Linked DNA regions of Homo sapiens: regions 2 and 3 are each linked to region 1. Evidence: fine-mapped expression QTL. A gene starts in region 1. Each other region holds a variant in brackets. All regions are shown on one strand. Distances are from middle to middle.

Region 1 (2,756 bases):
GAAGGAGGATCATCACTTGAGGCCAGGAGTTCAAGAACAGCCTGGGCAAAATAGTGAGACCCCCATCTCTACAAAAAAACACAATTAGCCAGGTATGGTGGCACATGTCTGTAGTCCTAGCTACTCGGGAGGCTGAGGAAGGAGGATCACTTAAGCCCAGGAGTTTGAGGTGACAGTGAGCTATAATAATGACACTGTACCCCAGCCTGGGTGACAGTGAGAGACCTTGTCTACAGATCTTTGAGAATAAACCTCTGTTGTTTTAAGCCACGCGGTCTGTGGCACTTTCTTACAGCTGCCTCAGGAAACCAGGAGAAACCAGGCGGCGACACGCAAAGCCGGAAAGGCGGGAGAGGAGGGGAAATGATAATGTCCCAGGCTTGGCCCAGCGCGGCAGGGTGAAGGTGAGGGCGGCTTGGGTTTTGTCTGCTTTGACTGGCGGCAGTGCCTAGGGACTCAGCACGTGGAGTGTGAAGAAAGAGGAATCAAAGACAACTGCGAGGCTCTGAACGCACAGCCAGGAAGATGGAGCTGCCATCACAGCGCCAGTCAGGCGGAGGAGGGAGCAGGTTTGGAGAAGAGAGCCTGATGTGTGCCTAGTGCGAAATGCCTGAGACATCCAGTGGAGACGCAAGAGTCCCCAAAAAATTATCAGTGTGCTCAAAATCCAGATGGCAGGAGAGCTACGAGGCAGACGCGTCCCCCAGCGAGCGTGTGGCGAGGACAGACCCAAGACATTCTGACCTACAGAGACCAGTGCGGGACGCAGCTGCGGGGCGGCGGGACAAGGAGAGGGGCCCGGGGCCCGCGCGCAGCTCCCGAGGTGGTGCAGGCCCTGGCGCCCGCGGGCTTCCTAAGACATCCCACGGGTGGGCTTCGGGGGAGTAGGGCGCCCTGTGGACCCAAGAGAAGCCTGGGGGGCTGCAGCTCGCGCAGGCCCGGCGCCCCCGCGCCCCCGCCCCGCCGCCCGCACCCTCGGCCGCCAGGCACTCACGTAGCGGCTGCACATGGCCACGGCGAGGTTGCGCAGGTGCGGCGTGGCCCCCACCCACAGGAACAGCGAGTCCGTCAGCCGCATGACGTGGAAGTGGACCAGCTGCTCCCACAGCCTCGCGCTGAAGTTGTGCAGGGAGACGTCCCCGCCGGCGGCGACAACCAGCCCCTCCATGCCGCCCCACGGCTCCCGGCCCACAGCGCCAGACCCGGGTCCTCGCCGCTGCCAGCCCCGCCAGACCCGATGGAGCGAGCACCGAGAGACCGAGCGCGCTTTCGCTTTCGGCCCCGGAAGGGCGGGGGTGAGGGGCGTGGTCGGGGAGGGGCGATCCCGGGCTTGGGTTGGGGGCGTGGTCGAGGCGGGGCGGCTGCCGGCCCTGGGCGGAGTAGCTGTCCCTGGTTGTCTTGCTGGCCTCTCCCGCACACCAGTACCTCTCTGGACGGGCTGGGGAAACCCACTTGAGTAGCAGAGTGCGACAGTGACCTCTAGGAGTCCACGGGCGCCCAGCAGAACTCACCCTCGCTTTGTTTCCCCCCACCCCCTAATTATTACTGACGCGGGGCATTCAAGGGCTGAAGCCAGCCGCACCGTCCTCCCAGGCCGTGACACTTCGCCCTACAGACATTAATTTAATTAAAAATTTAAAAAGACTGATTTTTAATTAGTTCTTCAAGCACTCTGAGAACGGCCACCTCCCGTCCCACCTCCTCCTCCTAGCAGCCCTTTAACTCCAAGGAGGCTTCGACGGCACCCAGCCCTAATTAAGAATGGCAACGGTATTGGGAGAAAGCCTTTAGAAAGGAAAATTGTGTCAACTAAGTTGGCAGGAGGATGGGCAGGCACCCTTTTGGACGCCGAGTCCCAAGCTGCAGTCATGTACATGGCCTCGGGCTACCCCCTTAACCTCTCTGAGACTCAGTTTCCTCATCTGCAAAATGCAAATAAGAACAGGTGCCTTTCGGAGACGTGGAAAGGATCTCAAGAGAGATTAATGGGAAGCACCAACAATCATCCAATCATCCCATTGTCATACCTATGGGGAGACCCCTTGAACACTTCAGGACATTACAGAGTTGAGAAAAGGAAGCCTTGATGGGTTAAGAGAGAAGGTGGTAAAAGAAAACAGCCCATTTTGTCAGATTCTGTTACAACTGACTTTAGAGATTTAACTTGGAACTATAAAAGGTCTGCTTTAAAAATCTCTAATAGATCTAAGTTGACTAAATTGAAATTTAAGAGGGCATTTTCCATAGTTCTATTTGCTAATTATCGATGATTCAATAATACAGTTAATTTTCAGGTCAATATTTTAACAGCTTTATTAAAATGTGATTAACATACAATAACTGCACATATATAGTGTACAAATTGAAGTCTTGACACGTTATAGCCAGTGAAATCATCATCACAATCCACAAAGTGAACGCGTCCAGTACTCCCTCCTGCCCTCAGTAATGACTCCTGCCCCCAACCACTGATCTGCTTCCTGCCACACAGATTAGTCTGCATTTTCCAGAGTTTTGTATCAGTGGAATCACACAGTATGTACTGTTTTTTGTCCAGCTTCTTTCCTTCATCATAATTATCTTGGGTTCATCTGCTTGTGTGTCAATGGCTTGTGTCTTTGTATTACTAAGCAGTGTTCCATTGTATGGCTACACCATAATTGTTTTATCCCTTTACTTTGTGATTTGAGGCCCTTCAATCAGCTAGGAGGACCCAAAGATTAAGGAAACAAAGTTACCGACCGGTGGAGAGTTCA
Region 2 (2,756 bases), 38 kb before region 1:
GACCTCAGCTTTCCTGAGCATGACCTTCAGAGAGCCACCATTGTCTTTACCTGGCCATGACCTATTTGTTGGGCAGCTGAAGACAGGAAAGGTGAAGTGTTTTTGGATAGTCGTTCAGATCCATAGAATTCCTGCGTGTCAGGAGCGTTACCACAGCTAGGTGGGGGTTCTCAACCTGGGGATCCACGTATCACCAGGAGGTTGTTAAAATCCAGATTCCTGGGCCTCTCCCTGGCACCTGGAGATCCTGACCTGTTAGATTTGGGATAAGCCCTGAGAACTTGCATTTCTAATAAGCACTAGAAGAGATTCTGATGCAAGTGGTATACAGATTTCCGTTTGAAGATCACTGGTGGTCTCGGCCCAAGCTCTGACTCACTGCCCTCACTGAAGACCTGGGATAAATTGTTGCTATAAAATTCCCTGGGAAAATAACCTCCAGGCCATCGTCCAAGAGAGAATATGCTCATTTTCCCCCCTGACCAGAAATGCTTGTGATCATGATTCATTCAGTAAACCAACACGTGTTTACTAGATGCCTGCTGTGTTTCAGGCGCTATTCTAGAGCAGAGAAGACACAGGCAAAGCCTTGCTCTCACGTAACTTGCAGGCAGGTGGGGCACACAGACAGGGAAGTTACACGTGCATACGTCAGGAGGGATGAAACAGCAGGGCTGTGGGATAGAGGGTGGCAGGGAGGGACTACAGTCAGAGTGGCTGCGGAAGCTTTGCTCCAGGGGCACAGGTGCAGGGGCCTGAGTGAGGTGGGAGAATGTGCCCTGCAGGTATCCATTTACGATGGGAAGGGATGCACGGGAACCCCAAATCAGAGAAGCCCTTGGTACCTGGACAGGCCTCTCGTTAGACTCCCAGTTCAGAAGATCGGGGACACTAGGTCACTAGAAGCTCCTTGGTGCTGCCGTAGCTCAGCCAGGATGTCACCCTCTGCCTCAACTTGTGCAGGGCCGTGAGAGTCAGGTCACCCAGGCTGGACCACGTGCTGGGTGGGGTGGGGCCTACCCAGGGACGCCTGAAGCTTTTGCTTCGCTGGACAGAAGAAGGACATGAGCCAGGTCTGGTTGACATGAAGGGTGCTGAGTGCTGGTGCATCTGTGGTCCCTTTTTATCCAGGGACAGTGACGAGAAACACGATGACACTCACATGGCACTCACATTTCAGCTCCTTTTCTAAGTGATTTGCAAATATTAATTCATATTTAATATTTAGCCCCCAAGTGCTTCACGTGTATTATTTCTCCATGACAGCCTATGAGAGAGGCACTATAATTAGCCCCGTTTGCCGATGAGGAAACGGGAGCACAGAGAGGCTAAGCAGCTTCCAGAGGTCACACAGCTGCTAAGAAGTTGAGCGAGGACTTGTCCAGCAGGGGTGCAAAGTCCAGCAGGGGTGGCTTTGCCACGCTGCTC[T/G]AACATGAGGGAGAGCTCTGGATAGATACAAACTTCCCTGCGCTGAGTAGTGAGTACTCAATCCAGGTTTCTCCAGCGGGGCCATGCTTGCTCGTTTTGGACGGTCCAGATGGCTTTCCCAGATTTCCCCAGACCTCACTCGTTAGCAGGTTAATGCTCTTAGGCTTACAGTACAATTTGTTTGTGGCATTTCCCTAATTAAGTCATCACACTCTGCTTCTTTCACGTTAAAATATTGTCTGGGAATAGCTTGTTTTCTCAAATCCTAATTACACTGATTCATTTCCCTCCTATATTTGGAAAGTGGTATTAGATCCTTTTTAAAAATTTATTTCTTTGCTTATGAGTTTTGCTGGTGCTTATTTCCTTTCCAGAGTCCCAGGCAGGAGGCTGGGTGAGAGGCAGTTGGTGACATGTGACTTAACAAAGAGGATAGAGGCTTCACCTCCTTGGGGAGCGGTCCTCAGGTGGTGGCTCTGCCCCGCAGCCCTTCACAGTGGACTCTGCTCTCTTCCACCCCCAGCTGTCAGATGTGTTGATGGCAGCACGATTGGCAGGGCTGCTGAGTGTGGGGGAAGGCAGCGTGTCTTTCAGTTGCTACATCTCCCACTTCCAGCTTCCTCTGCCCAGGCTCAGTTTTCTGCATGGAATCTTCCTCCCATCACCCCATCTAATCCCACAGCCAACACCTGCTCCGAGCCTCGTGTCTGTCACCCTCTCGCGCCCTGGCCGGCTGGCTGGGCTCCCAGCTTTGTTCCATCCTCCCTGCCACCAGGTCACACATGATCTGATCACATCACCACCGGCTTCAAGCCTCTCCAGTGCCTCCCAGTGCCTTTCGGGTAGACCCCAGGTCCTCCAGGCCACTGCAGAGGCTCTGATCTCTGCCTCCCACCACCTCACACCCTGGCCTTCGTTTGGCTCCCAGGACACACCACCGTCTCCCTCTCCACAGGTCCCTCCCGGTGCACACTCCCTGTCCTCTCAGCTCCCCACTCTTGCCTTGCCCAGCTCCTCAGAGACCAAGTCAGCCCCCAGTTATTCACTGTTACAACTTCAGCACTTCTCCCCGCTTCCCCTCATCCCAGCTACGACGAGTAATTGCAGGGTTCCTTATTACTGCCTGTCACCCCTGCAGAGCGGCAAGGCCAGGCAAGGCAGGGCCCGTCTGTAGAGCCAGACACTTCTGTGCCCCCAGCAGCAGCCCAGCCGAAGGCCTGACGCGACGCGTAGCAGGTGTGCCATGAATATTTATGGGCTAAACGAACCCAGGACTCCTATAGGAAGGAAGGGTTAGGATTGCGGTTGCATTGCCACTGGGTAAGTAA
Region 3 (2,756 bases), 27 kb before region 1:
CTGGACCTCCATCAGGAGAAGCATTCCATATTTCTCCCACGTCTCCTCTTTTGCATTGGCTCTGTAATCTGCTCGTGGTTCGGTCATGATGGGCTTTTCTATGACACATTGAGTTGCTTCTTCATCTCCTGGTCACCTGACAGCACGAACTCCCAGGAGGCAGCGCAGCCCCTGGCATGGGGGCAGCCCACCCACTGCCGCTCGGTATGTCTCCACAGGCTGACGGGGTACGGGATCCACCACTGCTTTGCCAGGAGCATGATGGGCCACGAGGTGAAGGTGCCGCTCCTGGAGAACTTCTATGCTGACTACTATACCACGGCCAGCATCGCGCTGGTGTCCTGCCTGGCCATGTGCGTGGTGGTCCGATTCCTCGGGCGCAGGGGAGGGCTGCTGCTCTTCATGATCCTCACCGCCCTGGCCTCACTCCTGCAGCTCGGCCTCCTCAACCGTGAGTGGGTCGGGGAGGTGGGCTGGGTGCAGGGAGGGAAGCTGGCAGATCCCCAAGGGCATTTGAAAGGGCTGCATAAGACTCCGCTGGCCACTCTAAAATCTACTGCTGGAAGGAGCTGCTTTGGGGAGAACAGAGCTTCAGTTGAGAGCATCTGTGGAGCCCGCCTTAGAGGGCACTGGGCCTTCCCGCCTCCCCCTGCCCCTGCCCCGGCCCGGGCTGCACCATGATTCCTTCCGAGTCCTGGTGGCCCAGTCTTTGCTAATAGGTAGACTGCTTCTGTGTGATTCATCACATGACCAAGAAGAACAAAGGATTGTCTCTTTCGAGTGACATTAAGGGGGAAATAAATCTGTTTTGTCACCCTTGCATTAGGGCCCTGCTTTTCAGCAGATGTTCCCGAGTTCATCAGCTTCTCTTTGGACCAAAGAATTTCTCAGTAAAGGTTAAAAATAATCTGGCCGGGTGCGGTGGCTCACGCCTGTAATCCCAGCACTTTGGGAGGCTGAGGCGGTCGGATCATGAGGTCAGGAGTTCAAACCAGCCTGACCAATGTAGTGAAACCCCATCTCTACTAAATATACAAAAAATAATTAGCTGGGCTTGGTGGTACACGCCTGTAGTCCCAGCTACTCAGGAGGCTGAGGCAGAAGAATCACTTGAACTTGGGAGGCAGAGGTTGCAGTAAGCTGAGATCGCAGCACTGCACTCCAGCCTGGGTGACAGAGCAAGACTCCATCTCAAAAAAAAAAAAAAAATCTAAGGCAAAGCTAGAGAGTCCATCTGGCCCTTCCAGCAAGCTCTGTATAGCTCCTCACCAACAAATACCCATTCCCGTGTATGGACAAACCACCACAGCATCTCCGTGGCCAGCCCAGGGCGCGACGTGAACAGGCAGGACCGATGAGCCTCTTCTCCCACCCTGGCACGGTCCTCCTGGGACAGGCTCAGGACACTGCGGGAACATCGACCCCACAGAGCTCCCCTGCCTTTACAAGGAAAATGAACCCGGGCTCTCAGAACTAGACGCCAGGGCTGTCCACCGCACCCAGATCAGAGCGGCCTTGTCGTGCAGCCTAGATTAGAGATGGCTCACTTCAAACTCAGGAGCAGCTTTCTAA[C/T]TTGGACAGTTCTTATGCAATCTATACCTTGCTGGGAGACTGCTGTTAGGCTTAGCTAATGGATTGCACACGTGGCGCCTGTCTCCCTCCATCCCCGTTCCCCAGCTGCCCTTCCAGGGAGTCTCCTGCTCACACAGTTGGGACGGAAGTGGCAGGGTGCCTCAGCCCCCGGGTGTTGTGGTGCCCCTTTGGCCCTGAGCAGGAATGCACAGGAGCCCCAGGCGAACACCAAGCAGCCGTGAGGAGCAGAGCTGGGGCTGGCAGGGGCACCCCACAGCACTTGACGCAGCTTGAATGCAGGCGGCAGTGACCTGTGGGTGACTTTACATGCAAGGAAGCTCACCCTTTGCACCTGCTGGGGTCTCACTGTGAAGGTTCCATTTTCTCCTCAGGCTCTGAGGCCAGCAGGGTCTCACTCCTGTCTTCCTAACAAAAAGATCTTTGTTTAGCGCAGTATGAATTCCACTGCCCCGGCGGCCAGCGCCATCCCAGACACGGAAGGGAGTTTGCTTGAACCAAGTCGCATGGGAACACGCTAGGCTAACTCCACACCTAATGTGCTCTCTTCTCTCTTCTCGCTTGCTTGGCCCTTGTCCGTGTGGGTGCGATCATGTCTGCGGGTCCAGTGATTGGAAAGTACAGCCAGCACCCAGACTCAGGTGAGTCCCAAGCGCGTGGGCTGTGCTTCCTCGTCTCATATTACATCTAAATGGGTGTTTTCTCGAAGACTCACGGACCTGTGGTTTCCATTTTCTCTTTCTCCCCGTTGCCCTCCAAGAACTGCAGCTGAAGTTGGCCGTAGGTTGGACACTATACGGATACATTTGTATTCTCCCTCTTGCCTCTAGAAAGAGCGACTGGTGCTTCCCTGTTTGTGTGCTGCTTGGCACGCATGCCCCCGCCCCTTCCCCTGGCACCAGGCTCAGCACAGGCCCTGGCCCGGCGCCAACATGCTTTGTCTTAGGGACAGTTGTCTGGGTGGGGGGAGAAAGCCTGGGAGTGCTGGGGCCCGGCTGTCTGTGCTGCCAGGGGAAGCCGCTGTCCCCCTTTGACTCATGTAAGCTTGCTGCCCTGCAGCCCATGGGGACAGCACAGTGCCGCCCTGCACCTCGAAGCTGCTGCTGCACCCGCCTGGCCTGCCCCAGCCCTCGCCCGTGTCCCTGGAGAGTGCTTGCCCTCTATGC

The links.
Region 2: its variant is fine-mapped to the expression of PSMG4 in whole blood (INTERVAL, PIP above 0.99).
Region 3: its variant is fine-mapped to the expression of PSMG4 in tibial artery (GTEx, PIP above 0.99).

The regions. Positions count from the first base shown.
Region 1 is chr6:3,257,435-3,260,190 of GRCh38, reverse strand. It overlaps PSMG4 (proteasome assembly chaperone 4), which reads right to left and starts at 1,244. Exons shown (of 3, transcript NM_001128591.2): 1 at 995-1,244. The coding sequence starts at 1,168. RefSeq lists an enhancer at 535-664 and silencers at 785-884, 935-1,054, 1,175-1,424.
Region 2 is chr6:3,294,973-3,297,728 of GRCh38, reverse strand. The region is part of intron 5 of SLC22A23 (solute carrier family 22 member 23); the gene reads left to right. Among named protein-coding and RNA genes, the nearest start is that of PSMG4, 37 kb to the right of the region's middle. RefSeq lists an enhancer at 524-1,024. The variant T/G (reference allele first, on the strand shown) is at 1,429.
Region 3 is chr6:3,284,554-3,287,309 of GRCh38, reverse strand. It overlaps SLC22A23 (solute carrier family 22 member 23), which reads left to right. Exons shown (of 10, transcript NM_015482.2): 7 at 219-451; 8 at 2,199-2,231. Among named protein-coding and RNA genes, the nearest start is that of PSMG4, 27 kb to the right of the region's middle. RefSeq lists an enhancer at 1-383. The variant C/T (reference allele first, on the strand shown) is at 1,573.